Linked DNA regions of Homo sapiens: region 1 is linked to region 2. The links come from fine-mapping of genetic effects on plasma protein levels. A gene starts in region 2. The other region holds a variant in brackets. All regions are shown on one strand. Distances are from middle to middle.

Region 1 (11,558 bases), 41 kb after region 2:
CCCTGACCTGCCCCGCCCTGCCCCTGCAGTCCCCTTTAACAGCTGCAACAGCAACAGAAATGTCCTCTGCTCCTTGTGCCCTGCAGTCTGGCCTAGCCAGTGACACAAGGGACCACAGCCGGCAGGAAACCCCGGGTGTGGAGGGAATGAAACAGGACAATGGCCACAGGGTCAGTGCTCCCCAGGCCCGAGAGTGCCTTTGGGCTGTGCGCACCCCCACTCACCTCCTGGCCACCTGCTTTCTCTTGGGTTCATACTTGCCCCTGGCCCCAGGGGAGGCCCAAGAGCCCAGAGGTGAGCTGCCGGAGGACTGGGCTGGGGAGCCAGGGCCAGCCCTCTCCTTGGCTCCCAGGAACGGTTGGCTGAGGTCAGGACCTGGCTGGGAGGTTGCCGACCCTGGCAGGAACATGGTGGGGGCAGGGTAACCCCCACCTCTGTAGACCTGGGGAACTGGCCTCCCTCACTCTGCCCCCACCCCACCCCCAGGCTGGCTTCAACGCAGGCGATGGGCAGC[G/A]TTACTTCAGTATCCCCGGCTCGCGCACAGCAGACATGGCCGAGGTGGAGACCACCACCAACGTGGGTGTGCCCGGGCGCTGGGCGTTCAGAATCGATGATGCCCAGGTGCGCGTGGGGGGCTGCGGCCATACAAGTAAGAGGACAGAGGAGCAGCTTGGGGTGGGAGCGGGCTGAGGAAGGGGGTTGATGGCAGAGGAGAGGTGGAGACGAAGGGGGCTGGATGCTGACGGGGAGAGCAGGAGCACTTGGGTGTCCAGCCCAGCCCACCTCAGGCGTGTGAAACTAAGGAAAGCCTGGCTGGTCCTGCAGCCTCAGCTTCCCCTAGAGAAGACCCCACACACACACTGCTCTGGGTTGGAGGGAACCCTCTGGAGACTGTGCCCTAGAGAAGATCCCGCACACACACTGCTGTGGGTTGGAGGGAACCCTCTGGAGACTGCGGGTTTCGGGGGTAAAGAGTTCTGGGTCCTCAGGGGAGGAGGAGCCCAGGGACACCTCTCCCTGGGACCATGTGGTCCCTACTCTCCCCTTATTCCCACCCAGCCTCCTGCCTGGGCTGGGGGAGGAGCAGCATGTGGTCTCTGACCCTCAGGGCCACCCATGAGGCAGGTCCTCTTACCACCCAGGTCCTCATTTTTGCCAGCGGGCTTGCTGCTTGGTGGGATTTGGTGACTGCTTGACAAACCCAAGCATCACGTCTACAGGGGAGTTCCAGGGGTCCTTCCAGCCCACAGTGCACAAACGGACGGGGTGGGTGTCCCTCCCAGGGGTGGGCACGTGGTTTGTGGGAACAGCCAGGGCGGCAGCAGAGCCATAGATGGTAGCCTTAGCCCTGCTGCTGTGCGGCCTTGGGAGCCAAGGAGCCTTCAGAAATCACTGCTTACACTTGGGGCGAGGGCAAGCGACTGATCCGCTCCACTGAGGGCGGCGCATCACAAGCCCTGCCAAGCCTGGGGCCGCAGTGAGGCTCGCACCGGGACCTGCCCCAGACTCGCCTCCCAGCCGCGAGCATCTAGGCTACGAGAGGGGAGAGGGGCCGCATCTCCGCAACACTGAGTCCCCAGAGAACACGACAGGGGTAGCAGATGCGCGCGCACCACTGTCGGGGCGGAGGCGGGGTGCAGGCGCGCCATGGGGTGGGGGATGAGGGGTAGAGAGTGTGGGGGTGGGGGATGGGGTATGCAGGTGCGCCACAGGGTTGGGGATGAGGGGTAGATGGTGTGGGGATGGGGGGTGCAGGCGCGCCACAGGGTTGGGAGTGAGGGGTAGAGGGTGTGGGAGGTGGGGGCGTGCCATGGGGTGGGGGGTGCAGGCGTGCCACGGGGTGGAGGGGTGGGGGGTGCAGGTGTGCCACGGGGTTGGAGGTGGGGCGTAGTAGGGGTGGGGGGCGGAGGCGCGTCACGGGGAGGGGAGTGGGGGGTGGAGGTGCGTCACGGGGTGGGTGGGGGGTGGAGGTGCGTCACAGGGTGGGGGGTGGGGGGTGGAGGCGCATCACGGGGTGGGGGTTGGGGAGTAGAGGCGCGCCACGGGGTGGGGAGAGCACCGCGCGCTCATGGGAAGAGGAAAGATGCAGTCGCAGGGCGGGAAGACCCATCTGAGGGCTGCAGGTGGTGCCGCGACGAAGGAGGCCCGAGGAGCCCGAGCTACCCACACACTGGGGCACGAACAGGCCCCCGCTTGCATCTGAGCTTAGGGAGTCCGGGCTCACGGGGCGGGGAGCCCAGAGCGGCCGCCCAGCATCCGAGGGACACAGCCCTCCTGCAGCCCCCAGCCACACCCCCTGCGTGGCCCGCCTTGTCCCAGAAACGCTGACATGACGGCTGAGTGCCAGCCTCGGGTTTTCCACGCCAGGAACCCTGGAGGGGAGGCGGAGTGTGCCAGTTTTTAGACCTGTCCACGGCAGCGCTGAGAGGGATGGAGGGGACGGGGTGCTGGTGTGAGTCGCTTCAGGGAGTCCGCCCCACACGAAGCCACCTCCCCAGAGGCCACGCCAACAGCACCGCCCCTGCTCCCCTGCTCCCCTGCTCCGACCTAAAGTGAAACCTGAAACCTGGCTGCTTTGCTGCGGTCACCCGGGCACCCAGAGGCCGACCTTTTGGGTCAGGGGAGGGAAGGGAGATGCGGATGGGAGTGGCTCTCCTGCCGAGTCCGGAGGCAGCGGCTGAGGCTCCAGCCCCTCCCTATGTCTGCAGCGTCCGTGTGCCTGGCCCTGCGCCCCTGCCTCAACGGCGGCAAGTGCATCGACGACTGCGTCACGGGCAACCCCTCCTACACCTGCTCCTGCCTCTCGGGCTTCACGGGGCGGAGGTGCCACCTGGGTGAGTGACTGGCCCAGGGCGGGACCACCCGCTGGCTGCGCTGGGCTCAGGAGGAGCACTGTAGGCTCCGCCAGTGGCCCTGGGCGCCCAGGGTCCCAGGTCAGGAGTCTCTGTCCCCAGGGTGTGGGTGACTTGCTTAGGGGACCACTGGGGACCAAAGGCCATGGCCCCCTGGAGTGAGCACCATGGGCGGGTGCAGTTGCTGCCCTCTCTGAGCCAATCTCGGGCTTGCTCCTCCTCCGTCCCCGGCCCAACCCGAGCCCTTAGAGAAAACTCCTCATCCGGGTTCCCGCCGCTGAGGCCTCAGCCTGCCCCATGTTTCAGACGTGAACGAATGTGCCTCCCAGCCCTGTCAGAATGGTGGGACCTGTACTCACGGCATCAACAGTTTCCGCTGCCAGTGCCCGGCTGGCTTTGGGGGACCCACCTGTGAGACAGGTAAGAGGAACCCACCGGGGCCCACGGGGCCCTGCTGGGGGCAGGATAGCGGGAGACACAGCTGGACAAGGCTGAGGTCTTGGAAGGTCCAGCAGCTGTGCATGCTGCAAGGTAGACAGCCCAGAGAAGCCACCCTCGAGGAGTGGAGGAGCCCAGATGCCCAGGGAAAGGCCCATATCTGGGTAGGGGGCAGGAGCCATGACCAGTCACACAGGCTTCCTAGACCATGGCATTCGGACCAGGGATGGGGCCTCAGAACAGGCCAGTGCCCAGGTCCCAAACCAGGCCAGGATCAGGGTCAGACAGGCACCAGAGCCCGGATGGGAGCCCGCTGGGGATGTGGTGGGGCCGTCAGACCCCCTCTCAGCCCAGGACCAGCTTGAGGGGAACGTGAAGTGCTTCTGGGGTCAGATGGGCTGGCTGTGGGGCAGGAAGGGCACAGCCACACGGTCCCTGCCGCTCCCTGCGGCTGCTCCTGGACGCTGTTTCTCTCCTGCCCCTGCCTTCAGGGAAAGGGGGTCTCACAGCCTAGGTGGGGCCTGGAGTCCCTCTCCATCCTCACTGCTGCTACCAAACCTCAGCTTGCCCTCCCAGTTCAGAGCCCAGCTCTTTCGAAGCAGTTGTCATCAGAGTCAGCCTCTACTTACTGCCCTTCCCCCGGCACCTCTTTAGGCCCCTCACCCATGCCCTTCACCCACCTGGTAAAGAAAGGTGGACCCCCCCCCAATTCCTGCTCTCCATCTCACCATAGGGCTCTGCTCAGGGAGCTTTGCAAAGGGAGCCCCTAAAATCAAAGCACCGTGACCTGCTGCTCCCCACCCAGCTCAGCCAGGTGTGCGTGTCCTGTGTGACAGTCGCTTACAAAAACATGTAATAGATTGTTTAGATCAATGCATTCAAATAGTGACTATATCAATATCTCAATCTAGAAAAAAACAATTCTTATCAGATATTTATGGTCATGGGAGGTTTTTTAAAGTACTTCCTTCCTGTGTTTACACATATTGGTATTGGAGAGAGCTATAGTTGAATGGCAGTAAGGGACTTTTGCACCTGAAAGTACATTAGAATGAAGTTCTGCAGGAATGCAATGGAAATGTGACTTCAAGGTCCAAAGCAGTGAAGCACAATTCCCACCTGGCGAGATGGGCTTGCCAGTGTGTTTACAGATCACACATAGGTGACAGCACAGTGACCCCAGTTATCCCTTGCTCCCCGAGCCCTGCCACTGTCTTCCCACAGCCAGTGTCGGAGCAAGCTCCATTCATAGGAGCCTTTCTTCATCCAGAAACTCCTGCCCTGCTTGCCCACGTGCTCTCAACGTGAGACGGGTGGGAGTCGGGCTTCTGTGGCATTGGTGCCGTGGCAGACTCAGCCCTGCAGGCGTCTGTCCCTTGGTAAAGGCCAGGGAGGCTGGCAGGATCTCCTTCCTCTTGCTCAGTGCTCTCCCTGTGCGGTGCTGGCCAGGGGCCTGGCTGCGGGAGGACCCAGGCCTATGATGAGGGTCCCCAAGGGTGACTGGGCAGAGCTTCCCAGGAATGGGCTGCTCCTCGGCTATGCCCCAGGCTCCAGGAGCCCCTCTGTGATGTGCAGCCTGGTGAGGTCCCCTAAGAGGGCTTGAGGCTTGGCGCCAGGAGGCTGGTTCAGGTCTTGGGTCTGCAGCATGTCAGTTGTACGTGTGGCCTCGGACCGTGAGCCTTCACTTTCTCAGTGCAGCTGTGGCACAAGCCTTGGGTACAAGCCTTCCCGCCTCGACCCCCCACAGGGGCTCCCTGATCTTGGAAGCCACCTTGGCCCCCAGAACCCATAACAGCAGGGGCGCCCGCAACTAAAGGCTAGGGTGTGCATGCTCCTCCACCTAGCGGAGTTGGGGTCAGGGAGACAGGGATCACCATGTCCCATCAGCCACCAAAGGGCTTTCACACCTCCTGGGGGAGTAGTCAGGCCCTCCTGTCTCCTTCCTATGCCAAAGAGAGGGCCCCACCATTCCCCCATGACTCCAGGGAGGGACACACGCTTTGGCTATCACTCTTGTTTCTGAGTTTGTTCTGGGTATGAGCTGTCAGTAAGACAGGGGATGTGGTTCTCCTCTGCGTCTGGCTCTGCTGGCCAGGGCAAAGGAGAGACCTGGGATGTGTGGGCCAGGTGCTCTGGACTCAAGGAGGGCCAGCATCCGGTGAGGAGGGAGGGCAGAGGGTGGGCTCCCCTAGCTCACTCCCACTCAGTAACTGGGGGCCAGAGTCCCTTTGCCCTGGCCGTTCCTGCACAGGCCACTGCCTGCCCCACCCAGCCTCTCGCCCCAGGGGCCACTCCTACACCCTGGGTGCTGCACACCCTTCCAGGCTCAGTCACAGCCTGCATCCTTGACCACAGCTCTTCTCACAGTCCACTTGGAATAAGAGCCACCTAGGGAGGGACCATCCCCCAAGAGTGGGAGTGATTTCCATGCACCCCCATTTGCCCCTGCCCAGCATACACACCCATCCCTCCATCCCAGGTTTGCTGAATTAGACCCAGTTCAGACAGAGCTTCGGGTGGCCAGTCAGGACTGCCTGGCCAGGCCTCTTTCTTGCCTGTCGCCCGCTCAGAAACCTGCCTGCCAGGCCCCCCTGCAATGTAAGCCAGTTGGGGGTGGGGCTCAGTGTACGTCCCAGGGGTTTCTGTCCCCTCAGGTAACCATAACTGGGAGTCCATCGTCCTGTCTACACCTCCTCACTCTAGCCCAATCCCCCTGTGACACCAAAGAGTGTCAACATGGTGGCCAGTGCCAGGTGGAGAATGGCTCTGCGGTGTGTGTGTGCCAGGCCGGATACACCGGAGCAGCCTGCGAGATGGGTGAGTGGCCTGGCTTCGGATTGGAGAGGGGCTCCTGCCCGTGGCCAGGTGCTGGGCACAGGGTGGTTGTGGCCTGGCTCAAGCCAAGCCCGCACCTCTGCTGCCCCTCAGATGTGGACGACTGCAGCCCTGACCCCTGCCTGAATGGAGGCTCTTGTGTTGACCTAGTGGGGAATTACACCTGCTTGTGTGCCGAGCCCTTCAAGGGACTTCGCTGTGAGACAGGTAACTGGCCAAGTGCCTGCAGGCCACCATGGCTGATGGTGGCTTTGTGCCGTGAACACCCCCATAGCCACTTTCCCCTTCCTTCCTTGCCATCTGACTCACCTCACACCTGTCTCTGGGGTGGGAGGATGCCTCTGCCCCCTTCCCACTCCCCAGCGCTTCCCGCTCAGCCTGGATCCTAAGCCACCAACTGCAGGGAAAATAGGAAGCAAAAGATGGATGCTGCCTCCAGGGTGCTGTGTGAGGCTGAGCAACCCCTTCCCCTCTCTGGGCCTTGGTTTCCATCTGTGAAATGCCAGGAGGGATGACAAAGTTCACAAGTCTCCTCTTCCAGCCTGGGTGACTCTTGACTTTTTTAACATCTTCCTCTCCTACTCTAGAACCCTCAGCACACAAGGGAAAGTAACGGGAATCAGAAAGAAAACTGACCTTTCACTATTTTCTATTCTATTTTGTGTTGTTTAACTGCTAGTTGTGACTTGTTAGAGGAATTAAAAGGCCAACTGGAGATTGCAGCCTACAGTATAAAAATGGCTTTCGTGTCTGATTGTTGCACCTGCCTCCAGAGGCTCACCCACTGTGCCGACTTCTGTGGACGCACCAGGTGCTGCTTCTCTCCAGGGAGATGCTAAAGACAAACTATTCAGGTTATTTTTAGTTTAAAAAATTCAGGAGGAAATTCTGTTTTACCCGTAAGACACAGAGGGTCATGGGCCCTCCATCAGTCTTTGCCGAGTGCATGGGAGGCCAGGGTGTGTCCTGAGGGGAGGGTGGGGCAGGAGCGGGAGGAGGCAGCCTCACCTATTTGGCTGCTTTAAAGTCACTGTTCCGTGTCACAGCTCACTTTGCCCAGATTGTTATCTAAATATCAATGTATTTCACTAAATTCATGTCAGGAAACGGATAAGTGGTTTCAAAAATTTTTTGCAAATAAACCGTGTTTTCTACAGAATAATGATGCAAGTAGAGTGAATAATAAGAAACAGACTGGCCGGGTGTGGTGGCTTATGCCTGTAATCCCAGCACTTTGGGAGGCTGAGGCGGGCGGATCACTTGAGGTCAGGAGTTCAAGACCAGCCTGGCCAACGTGGTGAAACCCCATCTGTACCAAAAATACAAAAGTTAGCCAGACGTGGTGCTGCATGCCTGTAATCCCAGCTACTCGGGAGGTTGAGGCTGGAGCATTGCTTGAACCCGGGAGGCAGAGGTTGCAGTGAGCTGAGATCGCACCACTGCACTCCACCCTGGGTAACAGAATGAGTGAGACTCTGTCTAAAAAAAAACAAAAGAGGAAGAAGAAAGAAACAACAGACTGACGGTGGTGCTAACGTAATGACTGATTGACTGTATTACAAGGCGCAGATGCTGACAGTCTAATCAGGTCTGACAGGAAGTGGGCCACAAATTGGACACTACAAAAAAGAGTCTCTAGTCTTCTGCTTCTGGCCAACAAGAATTAACTGCTCTTGGAATTTCCCTCTCACCATCAACACCTAGAAAAACAGACAAAATCTGTGAAACCCTTTTCAGCCATTAGACAACAGACAGCACAAGCCTGTCACCCCTGAGAAAAGGGAATCAAATGAGGTGAGCCCTACAATTGCCCCAGATTCTGCCTGGGGCAGTTTCCACTCCACTGTGCTGGGAGGAGGAACTGAGAGTCCAGCAGTCCCTTTGAATTGAGGAGACAAAGATCCTAGTTCAGTGGCTACAGGATGGTGCTCCTGAGGCAGGAGGGAGCATGAGATCAAGAGGAGACCTCCCTGAATTTTGGCTTATTATTATCAGGCTCAGGATGAAATCTGCAAGGCTGGGGAAAGAACCACTAGAAAGCAGTAAGTCAAACACTTCCTGGAGCTCAAACAGGGCTGGGAGTCTATTGCATAGAGTCCTCAGTGGGGTGTCACTTTAGTAGTGCTGAACTAAAGACTAATGTCGACCTGCCCTAACAGATCTTAAAGAAAGCTTAAAAGGATCAAACTGATCCTAAGTCATTGAGCCATGTGCCAGAATAAAATCCTATACTCCTCAACAGGAGTATATCAATAATACAACAGAATCCAGAACTCCAAAATACCCAGTCAAAAATTATCAGGTCTACAAAGAAGTAACATATAACTCACAGTCAGGAGAAAAATAGATCAATAGAAACAGGCACCAGAAATGACAGAATTAGCAGATACAAATGTTTAATTATCTATTATGAATATGCTCCTATAATCAAGATTGTTGAGGGGAAAAAAACCTAATGAGAAGTAGAAGGTATTTTTAAAAACTTGTAGAAATGAAAAATATATCTGAGTTTTTAAAATACACTGAATAGTATTTACAGCAGGTTAGATATTGCAGAAGGAAAGATCAATGAACCTGAAGAGTGAAACAGAAACAATTCAATATGCATCACAGAGAGAATAAGACTAAAAGAAAAAGAAGAGATCTTCAGCAACCTGCAGAACGATATTAGGGTAATAGGATCCACGTATCTGGAGTCTGCGAAGGAGGATGGAGAACAGTATCAAGCAGCCTGGGATCCACGTATTTGGAGTCTGTGAAGGAGGATGAAGAACAGTATCAAGCAGCCTGGGATCCATGTATGTGCAGTCTGCAAAGGAGGATGGAGAACAATATTAAGCAGCCTGGGATCCACGTATTTGGAGTCTGCGAAGGAGGATGGAGATGGGTGTGGAAAGGAGTGTTATAGAAAAAGTATGTGAAGAAATAATACCCAAACATTTTCCACATTTGATGAAAACTAAAACCCACATTTCCAAGAAAAGCATGAAGAAAACCATGCAAAGCCATACCATAATCAAATTGCTGAAAACTAATGATAAAAAACCTCAAAAACAGCCAGAGGAAAAAGCCACATTACATACAGCGAAACAAGAATGAAACAGACTTCTCGTCAAAAACAATGCAAGCCAGGAGACACTGGAGTAACACCTTCAAAGCACTGAAAGAAAAAACCATCAACCTAGTGTACTGTATTACCAGCAAAACTACATTTCAAAAGTTAAGCTGAAATAAAGACTTTTTTACACAAACAAAAATGAAGAGCATTCATCACCAGCATACCTGCATTACAAAAAAATGTTAAAGGAAATTATTTAGTCAGAAGCAAAAAAAAACTGGTACCAAGGGAAAATCTGGATCTACACAAAAGAATGAAGAGTGTTAAAAATGATAAATATGTGGGTTGAAGACTTTTTAATCCCTTTAAAGAAAAATTTTAAAATAATAAAACTTACATGCAGAAATAAAATAGATGACTCCAATAACATAAACCAAGCTGTGCAAACTTTTTCTGTAAAGGGCCAGAAAGTAAATACTTTTGGCTTTGTGAGCCATATGGTCTCTATCACAACTCAACTCTACCATTGTAATGTGAAAGCAGCCAGCCATAGACAATATGTAAATGAATAGGTATGGCTGTGTTCCAATAAAACTGTACTTTTAAAAATTGATGGCAGGCAAGATTTGGTCTGTGGGTTATAGTTTACCAACTCCAATGTAAAAGATAAGAAGAAATGGAAGTATAATATTGTAAGGTCCCTATATTACATAAAGTGGTATATACTGTTTGAAGGTAGGCTGTGTAAGTAAAAGATATACATTGTAAACCCAAAACAAGTGAAAAATAATAATAAAGAATTACAGCTAATAAACCAATTGTGGAGATAGAAATTGAATCCTAAAAATACTCAATCCAGAAGGCAGGAAGAGAGGAAAAAAAGAAAGAAGTGGGACAAGTAAAAGCCGATAGCAAGATGATAGGTTCAGTCTAGTCATATTGGTAGTTACATTAAAATGTAAAATGATTAAACATACAAATAAAAGGCAAAGATTGTCAAATTGAATTGAAAAGCAATACCCAACTATATGCTGTCACAAGAACCCACTCTAAGTATAAAGACACAGGTAATTGTAAAGTAATAGAATGGGTTTCTGGTTCTGAAAAAGATAGAGTAAGCACAGTCTACCCCTGTCTCTCCCCCACTGAATACAGCTACAATCCTGGACAGAATGCATGGAGTAGCTGTCAGAGGACTCTGAAAAGTAAATAGTAGCAGGTGGATTGGGGAAGAAGACCAAGCTTCGAAGTACCACCAAACCAGTGGTGAGTTTACCATTTTTTGTTTTTTGCTTTGGTATCCCCCCAGCCAGGACTCAAAGCCACCTCAAAACCAGAAGTGGGCATCCACACGGACAGAAAGAGTGCTCCAGGAGAAGCCCTCTAGTCCAGCTTAAGAAGCAGGGCTGACAGTGCAGAAGTTGGGGAATCCTCAAGTGCCCTTAAACTGCGAAGGAAGAAACCTTCCTCTCCAGTTGGAGGTGCTGTGGTTTCAAAGGGGTTGGGTATTGTTTTTCCCTTTCCTGTTGTTTTTCCCTTTGTCTGTCATCCCATTACTTGGTCCCAGCCATGAATGCCATCATTATAAAAGTGGCAAGGTAGGGAAATAAAAGCCGCAGCGTTTTTGCCAGAGGACTGAAAAAGGTAGCCCCAGAAAACTGGAAAGTACTGGGGAAACTGGAGGGTGAATCTTGGGACAGCAACTCCATAAAGTTACTTATGAACTCCTGAGCTCCCCCAAGTTGAAGGAATCTGTGTAATCTGATCTAAATTGTATTGACAATACCATTTATAATAGCTCCTCTCAAATTGAAAGACTTTAGTATAAATCTACTAAAACATTAGAGAATTTGCATGCTGAAAAACTACAAAGTGCTGATGAAAGAAATCAAGATCAAGTAAATGGACAGACATACCATGTTCATGGATTAGAAGACTCAACGTAGTAAATATGGCAGTGCTCTCTAAATTGATTTATAGATTTAACATGATTCCAACAGAGGTCTCAGCAGAATCTTTTGTAAATGTAGACAAACTGCTTCTAAAATTTATATGGCAAGAAAAAGAATTTAGAAAACCAAAACAATTTTGATGAAGAATAAATTTTGAGGAATCACACTACTGAGTATTAAGATTTACTGTAAAGCCACAGTGATCAATTCAGTGTGATATTGGCAAAGGGACTGACACATGGATCAATGAAACAGGAGAGGAAATTCAGAATTAAGCCCAAACAAATATAGCCAATTAATTTTTGAAAAAGATTTAAATCCAATGGAGAAATGATAATCTTTTCAACAAATGGGGTTGAAACAATTAAATATCCTTATATGTATAAAAAAAAAACCTCAACTTCAACCTCACACCTTATACAA
Region 2 (11,968 bases):
TACTCTGGGCAAAGGAGGAGTCAGTGGTGGCACAGGTGCCCCGATAGGCACCCCCTGCCATGGCCAGTCAGGGGTGGAGGACAGCAGGCAGGCCTGCCCCCACTGCTGGAGAGTGCTCTGCCAGATGGTGGGTGGAGGGGGTCACTGAGAGGCAGCGTGTGGTGCTCAGGGCCTGGCACTTAGTAGGCATGTCCCTTCCCTGCCTTCCTTCCCCATTCGCAGTCTCCTCATAGAGGGGGCCTCCCGCTCTGCAGCCCAGCAGAAGGGCCTGAGGGATGGCCAGGGCGGGAGGGAGGAACAGAAGTTCAAGGTTCCCAGTTGTGGGCAGGAGACTCAGCATCGGTCCCTCCAGCCCCCGGCAGCAGGAGCCCCCATGTGTCCCCGGGAATGCGGTGTCCACGCCTCCCTCTTTGCATCCCTGCAGCGCCCAAAGGGACTGAAGCTCCCAGCACAGGGGAGGCGCCCAGCGTGGCTGCAGAGGAAGGGAACGCACCGCAGGTGGGAGGGGCCCAGCTGATTTCTCAGCGTCACAGTGAAAGGCACCCGTGATGAGACAGCTCGCTCTCGGCAGTTTCAGGACCCTCCTTGCCCTGGCTGCTCATGGGGAACATTTGAAATGCATGTGGGGGCCTCCGAATTTTGAATTTTAATAAATAGTTGAATCAGCGTAGGAGATGCTATTTTAACTTATTCAACATAGAGACATGTATTTAGGAAAAGAGGATTTTTCTAGTGGAAATACATTGGCATTTTCTTAAACATGTCCAGCGGTCGTGTGTGGGCCTCTGTGTTCCGGTCTCATGATGACTGAGAACCGTGCTGGGGTTTGGAGAGCTCTCCCTCTGTTCTCGCAGCAGCCCTTTGAGCACCTGGTTTGCAGATGAGGAGGAAGCCTTGCTTTGGGACAAGTCTGCACCAGGTCGACAGGAGGGGTCAGGCCCAGGGACCCGACAGCCCAGGCCAGGGCTCCCCCTCCACCGGCCTCGCCCCAGACCCATCTGCCCAGTGAGGGGGCAGGCAGAGCCGTGTTAACCAGAGGATATGCCCCAGATGCTGGGGTCCCCCTGCCCCTTCATGGAGGCAAGGCCAAGGGAAGAAAGGGCTGGACCCCTTCCCACGCACTCCCCAGAGTCAAGGGGAAAAGACCATGCGTGGCCTCCAGCCCAGGCCTGCCTGCACGGGGGTCCCAGCTGTGCCCCCACCAGCTGTGCAACCCAACCCTGGACAGATTCTTTAGGTTTTGGTTTCCCTGTCTATAAAGTGGGGTGACCCCAGCCCCAGAGGGCCATGGTGTGTCCTACGTGAAGTATCGCCCAGGCTGAGGCCAGAAGCACTCAGCTAACGGTGGAGGCACTGTCACCTGCAGCAGCCACGGCTCTGGGAGTGCCATGTCCATCTCCTTGCTGCCATCCCCAGCCACGGTCCAGCAGGGCCAGGGTACTCGAGGGAGCAGCCCCTGAGGCCAGCCTGGTGGAGGCGGCGCAGATCCGTGATGTTCCCAAGGGGAGGGTACTCTCAGGGTCTACCTCTAGAACCCACAGAGAGTCTGGGTGTCAGTGAAAACTCAGAGGTGGCTCTCAGGCCTGTCCCTGCAGGGGATGGACCCCCAGAACCACCTCATGGAGCTGGAGCCACACATACGCTTGCGACCTTGGAGGCCTCCATGGTCTGGCTCTTCCTCTGCCTGCCCTCTCCGGTGGGCAGAGGTGATAAATGTGCCTGAGGTTTCCGAAAGCCAGGAGACCCTCCCCCACACAAGGCAGGGATGCAGGCAGGGGCCCAGCTCCTGTCTGAGACAGAACACAAAATCCCTTCGGATTCCTGCCACCCTTGAGGCTCGCCGAGGAATGTGGGGCACGCAGGGGCTGTTGGAGGGTCCCATCCAGCCTCTGGCCAGGAAGCTCCGACGCTCTGACAGGCCCTCAGGTGCCTGGGTCCGGGGGCAGCACCCTTTGCAGGCATCCAGGGGTTGCAGACCAACACAGGGAGGGGACAAATGGGAGAGGAAGGCCCCCTGGGGAGGGGGCACTGGAGGAGGGGCCATGTTGAACGCAGACGGCGGCACCCAAGGACAGGCCAGCCCTCTGAAGCACCCCAGGTTGAGGGAAGCACAAGCTTTGGTTGGCTGAAGCCGGGGCAGGAAGCCGGCCAGCTGGAACCAAGGGCATTGTTTATCTGGGCTTCCAAAACATTCATACTTTTCAAATTAATTGCAAAAAATGTTAGCAGGGAAACATAGAAAGGAGAATGTAACCACCACCATAATCTGTGACCTGCAGAGCCCCGAGGTGACACCCAACTCTCCCTTTTTCTAGCACACGTGTGCTTAGGACGGTTGAGGCCATAGCGTGGATGCTACTCAGAGTACTATTTTTTAAAACTTTTGCTTGACACAATACCGTTAGAGTTTTCCCGAATCACTAAAAACGTCTCAGAGCATGGTTTTTTTGCTGCGGAAGCTCCGGGGCATCGGAGGACCCTGGGCCTGAGTGTCCCTCCACTGCTGGCTGTCCCTGCCATCCTGGAGCCCACAGAGAATGGGGCTCTGTCCTGTCTTGGGCACTCAGGAGATGGACAAGGCTCTCAACGGGAGGCAGGGTCTCGTCATCCCCAGGACAGGGAGAGCCGATGCCTGAGCCCACGCAGCAGTGAACATCCTGGGAAGGAAGTGTTGAACCCCAGTCCCATCGTTTCCCTAAGAGCAACCACAGAAGTCCCGTCATGGGAGTCAATGTGTGTGCGGCTCCGTGTGCATGAGAAGAGGAGGTACAGGGCAGGCTGCATGGCCCCCACACTCCCTCAGGGCCAACTGCACCAAGACCCCAACCAGCCACACAGGACAGTGACCAGGTGAGCAGGTGGAGCGGCCCTTGGTCCCTGTGACCTCCTGGCCTCATTCCGGAGCATGTGGAGGTTTACTTGGGATCAGCGCTTCTGGGGCAGGGGACCTGCACTCCACCTGCCACTTCTGGGAGAGAAGGAGAGAAAGTTAGGGTGGGCTACAGCCAGCCAGCCCCTGCCCCTGGCAGCTCAGGCCTGAACCCCCAGGATCTTCCACCCTGTGAAGACCAAACAGGCCCAGCCAACCAGGTGCAGGTTGGGGAGGGCACCCCCACCTTGGCCTGCGTGGAGCCCCGAGTCCTGGGGCATCCTGAGGGCAGCTCCCGGGGCACCCCATCTAAATTGCACACACGCTCAGGCCCTAAATTAAAATGTCACAGGCCGGTTGGGGAGGCTCGGGTTTCCTGGCCACAGAACATGAGCCTGCTTGATAAAACAATTTTGGTTTTGATAAATGTGGATTTTCTGTGGCAGAGACAAAGGCGCCCTTGAGTCCAGAGGGGAGCCTAAAACAGCACATTGCTGAAAAGTATTTCCTGATAATATTTTTAGCACCTGAGAAAAACATTTTTTTTTCTCTTTTTTGCCTGCAGAGTTGTGTTGTTTTTTTTTTGTTTTTTTTTTTTTTAATGAAATGTAATGCCCAGCAGCAGCGGGGCCTTTTGTTAACCCCCAGCTCCCCGGGCCCGGCTGAAAATCTGCACAGGGTGCAGGCCGAGGCTGGTCAGCAGGGTACAGGCCCGAGGAAGTGTGGCCTCTCTGGGCCATGAGCAGGGTCTGGCCCACTGCCAGCCACGCCCCAGGCCCATGAGCTCTGACTCTCTGGGACGAGGACGGGCCTGAGCGTTTCCAGCACTGCTCAGCGACCCCCGTGAGGCCCACCAGCCCACCCGCCTGAAGAAACAGGCCTCCACTCGGTGCAGCCACTGAGTGCCACTGTGTGCCCCAAGGTGCCCTGGGCGGCCCTGCCCCCAAGTTGACCCAAACCCAGCCCAGAAATGGGTTGTTACCCAGGTCCCTGTCTTGTGTGCTCAAGAGAAGGTCAGCAGTGGGGAGAAGGGCGCCTGGCCTGGGCAGCTGGCTGGGAGGCAGCACCCCAGGCTGGGCTCTGAGAGCAGAGCAGGAGCATGTGGTGGGAAGTGGATGGGTAGTAGGGACAGGGCAGGAGGTGGGCCAGCCCTAGTGGGGGTCAAAGCCTCACGTCCCCATGACAACACCTCTTCAGCGGAGAAATCCTGCCCTGGGGTTGGCACTGCCGCCTCCCACCTTCGCAAACTCACCGGAGGGGCCTTCCAGCCAGGCCCCAAATGCACTGAAAAGAGGGTAGAGGGCTGCCAGGTTTTTCTAGAAAAAAGACAAATAGAAAAGCGTTCTCCCTGATTCCCGCCACGGTGACGCCTGGCAGCTCTGTTCCCAACGCTGCTACATGGGGCCTTGTCCTGACTCCACGGCCTGTGCCAGCCAGAGGTGGGAGCAGCCCTCCCTGACCAGGGAGGCCAGGGCTGGGCTGAGGAAGGGGTTAAAGCATGTTCTTGAGGCCCCACGTATGGGCATATGCTGCCTCCGTGCATGTGAATAAGTATGCATGTGTGCGTGGACGTGTGTGCATGTGCGTGGAGACATGTCTCTCCTTGCCAGGCTCTCACCGAGAGCCGGCCTCAAGTAGGGATTCTACAGTTCCACGCCCTCTCTGGTGCCTCCCTCCAAAGACAGGAGGCCTTGACCTTTCTGGCCCTGGAACCATGGCTGTGCTGCTGTCCTGGAGCTCTGAAAGCTGGGACGGTGACCTAAGGGCTAACTGCGGGACAGAGCCCTTCCCCTCCCAGGCCCAGTTTGCCTCTCTGCAAACAGAATTGCCACCCCATGCAGGGTGGGAGAGGCGCCAGGGGCAAGCTTTCAGGAGGTGCCAGTGCAGGGTCAGCTCCTCCTTAACAATTCTGCACCCGGCCCTGACACCAAGTCTAAAGGGTCATGAACCTCTGAGTGAAAACACCAAGTGCAGGATCTGTGAGAACCGGCAACACCCAGTCACACGCAGAGAACCCTCCGCTGCTTCTTAAAAATAACATTGACTGTGCCTGGCTCTCACTGAAAAACAACACGTGCTCACTTGAGATATTTCAGAAGATACAAACGCAAAGACAAACAAAAAACCACCCAGCACCTCAGTGGTAGATGCAGTTACCATCAGCCCGGCCTTTCCTGCTTGTCTTCGAGGGGTGCACTCTTATCTTTGGGGGCCCCAGTGTGGCACGCAGCCAACACCACCCAACACCAGGATCTAAGAGAAGAGACCACGGTGGGCCGGGTGAGTTCCAGGAATCAGACCCTGCCATGGGCCTGGGGACATAGAGGTGGTCCCGGCTGAGGCCCTGAGGAAGGACAGACAGGCAGCCCAGGCCAGCAGCCCAAGAGACAGGGGGCAGGGCTGGCAGGCCACAGGGTGGGGACCCTGAATTCAAATACTGGGACTCAGAGTCCTGCCCCCACCTGCCAAGGCCGGTGTCATGCACGCACTTGCCCCCAGGGCCTGAGTGGGTCAGTCTTCCCCACGGAGGGTTTGCTTTACCCAGGGGTCGCCCCGAGGTCCCGAGCCTCCCAGGAATTTCTCCTGATGCGGCCACGCAGATGCAAACACTTTGTTCCATGCCTCCTAGTCTCCGGCCCGGGCTCTTCCTCACACAGACCCAGGCAGGGAGTGGGCTCCGGGGTTAGTCTGCCCCTGTGGCTGGAAGCCTGGCGTCCCCATGCTCAGGGCTGGGAAGGGGGCAGCACGGAACGGGTTCATTCAGGCACTGCCTGGCCAGGGTCCCCTCCCGCCCCCCGCGTGATGACACGCCTTCAGGGCGGGCCCAGCGTCTCAGGCCTTAGGGACACAGGTCTGTCCCAGGACGGCACTGAGGGCCCAGGCGCCTCCACCAGGGTAGGGACCCAGGGCGGAGCATGGCCCCACCACAGGGCGCGCGCCCGCAGAGCCCTCACCTTGCCTGTGCCCACGCCAGGGGACTGAGCTCCCCGCGCGCCCGCGCCCTCCCACGGGGCCTGGCGCTTTAAGAGACGCCCGATTTGCATGGCCCCGCCCCCCCGAGTGACCGCCGGGCTGGATATTTAAATCGTGGCCCCAGGGGCGGGGCTGGCCCCGAACGCGGTCCCGCCCGGCGCTTTCCTCTGCGGAGCTGCGGCGAGAGCGCGGCCCGGCCGAACGGGCGCGGGACGCGGAGCCCCCGACGGCGCGGCCAGCGGGCGCGCCCGCGCTCCCCGCACCCCGCCTGGCCCTGCCGGCCACCCCCGCGCGCAGCCTAGTCCCCCAGCGCCCTGCTCCGCCAGCGCCCCGTCCCGCCCGCACACCTCCGCGATGCGGCACGGCGTCGCCTGGGCGCTGCTGGTGGCCGCGGCCCTGGGGCTTGGGGCGCGCGGGGTGCGCGGCGCGGTGGCCCTTGCCGACTTCTACCCGTTCGGCGCCGAGCGCGGCGACGCCGTCACCCCCAAGCAGGACGACGGCGGCTCGGGGCTGCGGCCGCTCTCGGTGCCCTTCCCGTTCTTCGGTGCCGAGCACTCCGGACTCTACGTGAGTAACCCCCGGGCTCGCGGGGCGCCCGGGAGGGGAGGGAGCTGCGCCCCGGCCGCTGCCCGCCGGGCCCGGACTCCCGCCGCCGCCGCCAGCCACTTGGCACCGGGGCGGCCCGAGGTGGAATGAGGACAGCGCTTCCTCCTCGGCGGCCAAGGCCGGACAGCGGCCCGCGGGAGAGGCGCGCGGGCGGGGCGGGGGCGGCAGCCGCCGGGCACCGAGGCGGGGGCGAGTGGAGCGCGGCGCCCCGGCCCCTGCCAGACCTGCCGAGCGCGTCTTCCCGGCGCCTGATTCCCAGGGGAGAGCAGGGGTCCTGGTACTGCCCTGGTTTTCACACATGGCAATGTGGCCGTGGGCACGGGCTTCCCGGGCCTCAGTTTCCCAAGTGGGGCGCCGGGCCTGCGAAGGTTGCAGCCCCTCCTTGGGCCATTTCAGCCCCGCCCCCCGTGGACGCCAGTGCGGCCCAGAGCCAGGAGGCTGGACCCCTTGCCCAGGCGCTCAGGGCAGGGCCTGCTTCTTCGCTGACCCTCCTAGGCGGGCTAGCAACAGGCTTGCCCCTCCCTGCCGTCCTCTCCGCAGTCTGGGGGCTGGCCGCTCAGGCTCAGACTCTCCAAACAGGACTCCCAGTGGGACTCCTGGGGCCAGGGACTCATGACAGCAGGCTCAGCTCAGCTGAAGGAACAGGCCCGAGTGCCGGTTCTGTCTCCATGGCTCCCAGAGTGTGACCCCAGGCCAAGCCCTTATGGCAGCCCAGGGAATGAAATGCACCTGGTAACTGCATGGAGCACTCGCCCTGAGTAGGCCACGGTGCACTGGTACCTGGTGGTTCCCTGAAACACCCCAGATCATATCTAGAAAACTGCTGGGCCAGCCTCAAGTAGAGTCCCCTCCAGCTCCGTCACCACGGCCACCTCCACCATCAGCCCTCTCATACCCTCGCCCACCTCCAGCCTCAACCCACTGCCAGCCACATCGCCTCTGCCATCTGTGCTGCCCGGAGTAACACCACCTGTACTGCCAACTCCTCCGTCAACACCACCTCCTTCAACCCCACCACCAGCAGCACTGCCTCCACCACCACCTTCCCCATGGTCCCCAGCTTCCCGTCGTCACCATCCACATCCTCTGCATGGTTGTCATCATCCCTCCCCACCTCCATCCACAGGGCCTCCTCCACCACATGCCCTCTAGTGCGCCTCCCACCCCACAACTGCCAACACCATCCACAGCGCCCACTGCGTTTTCCACACCTGCTCAGGAAGGCCTCCCCACCTCGGTGGCAGCACTGGGTGACCTGACTGGTGGGAGGGGCAGCCATGCTGTCGGTGCTACCCCCTGAAAGTCCCTCTGGACCGGGACTTGGACAGAGGAACGGGACTGACTCCTGGAAGTACGAAGTGGGTAGGACAGAATGGTGCTCAGCGTTGGCCCGAGCTGGAGGAGGCCTGTCCACTTGAGGTATGGGACACTCACATTGGCACCATCCGAACAGAACTCAAGAGGCTCCTTAAGCATTTGGGCCAGGCTCAGCTTTCCCACTCACAGTCACAGGTGAAAATATTATTAAAATGGTTAACCCACTTAACAGCCTCACCAAAAACATCTGCCCTTGCCAGAGCAACTAGGGGAAACAGCTCTAACGTGGGAAGATCTGCTAGGAGAACTAGGGTTTCGTCAGAAATGAACCTTCTGGCTGCTAACAAAACATTTATCTCCATCGGAGCTTTTTCCTGAAACAAAGATATTATTTGAAAACCATTTGCCGATGTGGACACAGTGCCTGCAGTGCACTTCACCTTTCTGTTTGCTCAGCAGGAGGCTTGAGGCTGCGTTGCCCAGGACACCTTGCCTGAAGTAACTGTGCGGACTCTGTGGTCAAGCAGGGAGAGAGAAAGGGGTGCTTGGCAGCAGGTTAGGGCTGAAGCCAGGTGGAAAGAAGGGAGGCATTTGTTCTGAAGGAAGTGGACCTGCCTGGGGCCTCCCACGCCCACCCAGGCCGAGCGGACCCTCTTCTGAGGCCCCTGGCTCTGGCCCTTGTCCAGCTCCAGTCTATAGGGGCCTCGTGTCTGCTGGCCCTGGACTCAGACTCCCATGTCAGGCCCAGCCAGGACCCTCCAGCCCCCATCCCACTGCAGTGACCTCTGCGCTCCTCCGCCCCCAGCCTGTCGCTTGACCAAGAGTAGGCTTGTTGTCTGAATGAATGAATGTGCCTCCCTCTGACACTGCCTGCAAGTCACAGGTAGAAATTAGAAGTGCTCTTGCATGAGATGGGTGCTTCTTCTGTCTTCATCAGAAATAGCACATGGATTACTGCCCTAGCAAGACAGCTCTGCCACACATGGAGTGGCCCCCTTTCCAGAAGGGACCCATTGTTTTGCTTCTTTCTCATGTCATAGTAGCTGTATGTGTGTGGTAAGTCGTAAGGCTCTGAAAAGTGTTGAAAGTGCATTTTATTGCTAAGGTTCTACACACAGACAAAGATAATGCAGCCGAGGAGCGTGGCGCGCCGAGGAGTGTGGCGTGCTGAGGAGTGTGGCATGCTGCCGCTATCCTGCCATGCAGGAACTGCCAGTGTCTGCATTAAGACGGAGCTTGCCGCGGTCTGTGGGGCTTATGCAGGTGGAGTGGTTTCCTAGGGGCAGGTGCAGGGAATGAGAGACGAAATCTTCCTGGTGCCCCCTACACTGAAGCTCCTGGCTCCAAGCACTGCCCCCATCCACAGCATGGTCTCTGGGCCATGGGAGGATCTCAGTTTCTTTGGCATCAGGACCCCCGACAGAGCCCTGAGCAGAGGCAGGGAGGATTTGAGGGTCAAGAGTGGGTGGTGCCCTGCAGAGCCCGCAGGCAAGAAGGAGGAATGTGGACAGTCAGACTGACCCTCGCTGGTGCTGGCTAAACCCCCACTCTGTGCCCTGAGGCTTCGTGCCACACCGCAAGTCTGCTGGCTCTGGCTCTGCACAACATTACCATCCAGGCACAGTCCCGGCCCTACCCCTCCCAGAACACGGAGCCCAGGGCAGCTGCTCTGGTGTGGGAGTTCACATGCAGCCTGTGACCTTTGCCTGGTCATTTCCTCCCTGAGCCTCTGTCTCCCCATCTGTGTGGTGAAGCTCCCCCATCAGGTCATACCTGTGACACACCCCATCACTGTCACGGTTGTGTGGTCGCCAGCTCCAAGCCATCTGGAAAATCCACCCTGACCCACAGGGACTGTCTCAGTGGGACCGAGGCCTGCGCATGAGTGGATCTGGGAGCAGACATGTGGGGAGAAATCACTGCCATCTCTGCTCTCTTCTGAGCTCATGGAACACCCCAGCAAATGCAGGAGCCCCTTGGCTGGGAGGAGGGTCCTGGGCTTCCCCTTGGCTGCCCTATTCACTGAGGTTCCCGGGCTGGCCCACCCCCTGCTATGGGCTTGGCCAAGGTGGTCCTGCCCCTCATCAGCATGCCCTTCTTGCTGCTGCCTGGGTGTGACGGAAGCAGATGGAAGGGGATCCTGGGGAAGTGGAATGGGGCTGGAGTCGAGGAGGATGCTGGAGTGAGAGAGCCTGATGACTCCAGGTCAAGGCCATGAGCCCAGGACAGCTGTGATCTGCCTGGACCTCACAGGCAGCCCCTGAGAGGATGGAGCAGGACGTCATGCCCAGTGCAGATGAGGAAACCGAGGCTCAGAATGCAGATTCAGGGGCCTTCAGACTCCTGCGTCCAGCTGCCTCTTACTGTGCCACCCCAAACTCAGTGGGACCCAAACAGAAGTCCTGCTTCCTCCCTGGCGCCCACCCATCTCCATGAATAAACCCCTGAGAGCCTCCCCAATGCCTCCCTCCTCTCCCTCACCCTCCACGTCAGCAGCAGCTCCGCCTGCCTCTCTACTTGGACCACTTCCCAGCTGTCCATCCCCACTTGCCTGGACACCTGCAGCACCCCCTTGCTGACCTCCAGCTCTTGGCCTTTCCCTCCAGCCTGCCCTCCTCTGTGCAGAGTGACCAAGGGAGCCATACAAAACACCAGTGGGATCCTGTCTCTCCTCGCCAGAATCCCCGCTACGCTTCCCTGCCCCCCTCCGCCCTCCCCCGGGCCCCCCGCTCAGGCACTCCCCCAGCCCCACCCTCTGTGCTCACTGCAGCTTGTTGGTTCTGACCTCAGCTGGGTTGCTCCTTAGTTTTCTTGTTTGGGAGGTGTTGGGATGTGCACCCCATGAAGGCAGGGACCACATCCATCCTCATGCCACCATTCTGGTGTTGGGCTCAGAATAGGCCTCAGACGACAGCCTGGGGCTGCAGTGGTGGTGGTGCCCTGGTGAAGGACTCTCTCTTCCACCCCTGCTGAGGCCAGAGGATGCATGCAGCAAGATGCCTGCACCCTGAGCAGTAAGTCCTCCTGTGCCACATCCACATGGTGGGCTCATGGTCTTGGCCACCAGCACATTTCTGCACCGTGTGTTCCCCAAAGCAGAAGCAGTCCCACCTTCCCTGACAGGGTGAGCCTTAGCCTGGGAGTCAGCTTTTCCACACAGAGATGCAGGACCTGCACACTTCAGCCTCAGCCCACAGCCGACTCCCTCCCAGGACTGGCCTGACCCATGGCACAGGCACAGCTGTTGGAACATGGTAGTGTGGTAGGGGGTCCTGGCTGCATGCTGGGCCCCATAAGGAAAGTCTCTGTCTGCACTGCCCCACCTCTGCAGGTGACCTGCTTAGAGAAGAGACTCACAGGGAAGACAGGTCAGTTTGTGTGATACTGACATGAAGTGTTATCTGTGACACTTCTGTGTGTGATGGGCCACGAGAAGCCATAAGGCTGCACACAGGAGCAGCAATTTGTAAAGGTGACCAAAAAAATGTTGGTTATCATTTATACTGCCCTCTGCCTTCTAACATCTCTGGTTTCTGATGAGCCCTTTCTTGGCTGAGTGAGCTGGAATAGGGCTGGAAGCCCCTGGGCTGGACAGGGCCAGGCTGTCCTATGTGAGGAAGGAGAGAAGCTGATGCATGTATGGAGGGGAAGATCCTGGAGTGGGGATGAGCCTGGGGGTGAGGCTGGCCTCTGCTTGAGGCACAAAATGATCCCCACATCCCACCAGGGGAGCCATGAAGAAAGGAGATGTATATAGGTAGTGGGCACAACACTGATAAAACTGCAGTCTGAGCATTTGTTGTGGCTTCTTGTTCTGGCTTCCTGTGAAATCTTCAGCAAAACCCTTACCACACCTTAATGACTGTGGCCTTGATTGTCTTTCTTGTAAATGCTAAAAAAAAGAAGTGTAGTACTGATTTTTTTTAATCCAGCCTGACAAATCTCTTCCTTTTAATTAGAGTGTTTTAGACCATTTACATTTAATGTAATTATCAATATGGTTGAATTTTAACCTATCATCTTCCTATTTGTTACATCTGTTCTCTATAGTTTCTTCTTTTGGATTTTTAAAAATAATTTCATATTATCTATACTATTGGCTTATTACCTACACCTCTGATTTTATTTTTTTGTGATTATTCTAGATTTAAAACACATTTTTAACATAGTTTACCTTCAAATAATATTATACTCTTTCAAGTA

What was found. PIP is the posterior inclusion probability: the model's chance that the variant is causal. Protein levels are from antibody-based Olink assays in UK Biobank. Linkage for the fine-mapping came from a reference panel and not from the study's own genotypes, which makes the PIPs less certain.
Region 1: its variant is fine-mapped to the plasma level of the SNED1 protein (UK Biobank, PIP above 0.99). The variant lies in the coding sequence of SNED1. If it changes the protein, the assay may bind it differently, which can mimic a change of level.

The regions. Positions count from the first base shown.
Region 1 is chr2:241,034,082-241,045,639 of GRCh38, forward strand. It overlaps SNED1 (sushi, nidogen and EGF like domains 1), which reads left to right. Exons shown (of 32, transcript NM_001080437.3): 4 at 487-649; 5 at 2,709-2,834; 6 at 3,159-3,272; 7 at 5,994-6,107; 8 at 6,219-6,332. All of the region lies in intron 1 of SNED1-AS1 (SNED1 antisense RNA 1), which reads right to left. It also overlaps a transcript of MTERF4 not described here. Among named protein-coding and RNA genes, the nearest start is that of SNED1-AS1, 24 kb to the right of the region's middle. RefSeq lists enhancers at 19-962, 963-1,904, 1,905-2,848, 7,278-7,327, 7,778-8,007. The variant G/A (reference allele first, on the strand shown) is at 515.
Region 2 is chr2:240,992,642-241,004,609 of GRCh38, forward strand. It overlaps SNED1 (sushi, nidogen and EGF like domains 1), which reads left to right and starts at 5,977. Exons shown (of 32, transcript NM_001080437.3): 1 at 5,977-6,409. The coding sequence starts at 6,197. It overlaps CROCC2 (ciliary rootlet coiled-coil, rootletin family member 2), which reads left to right. Exons shown (of 32, transcript NM_001351305.2): 32 at 425-670. The coding sequence ends at 440. RefSeq lists a silencer at 5,609-6,028.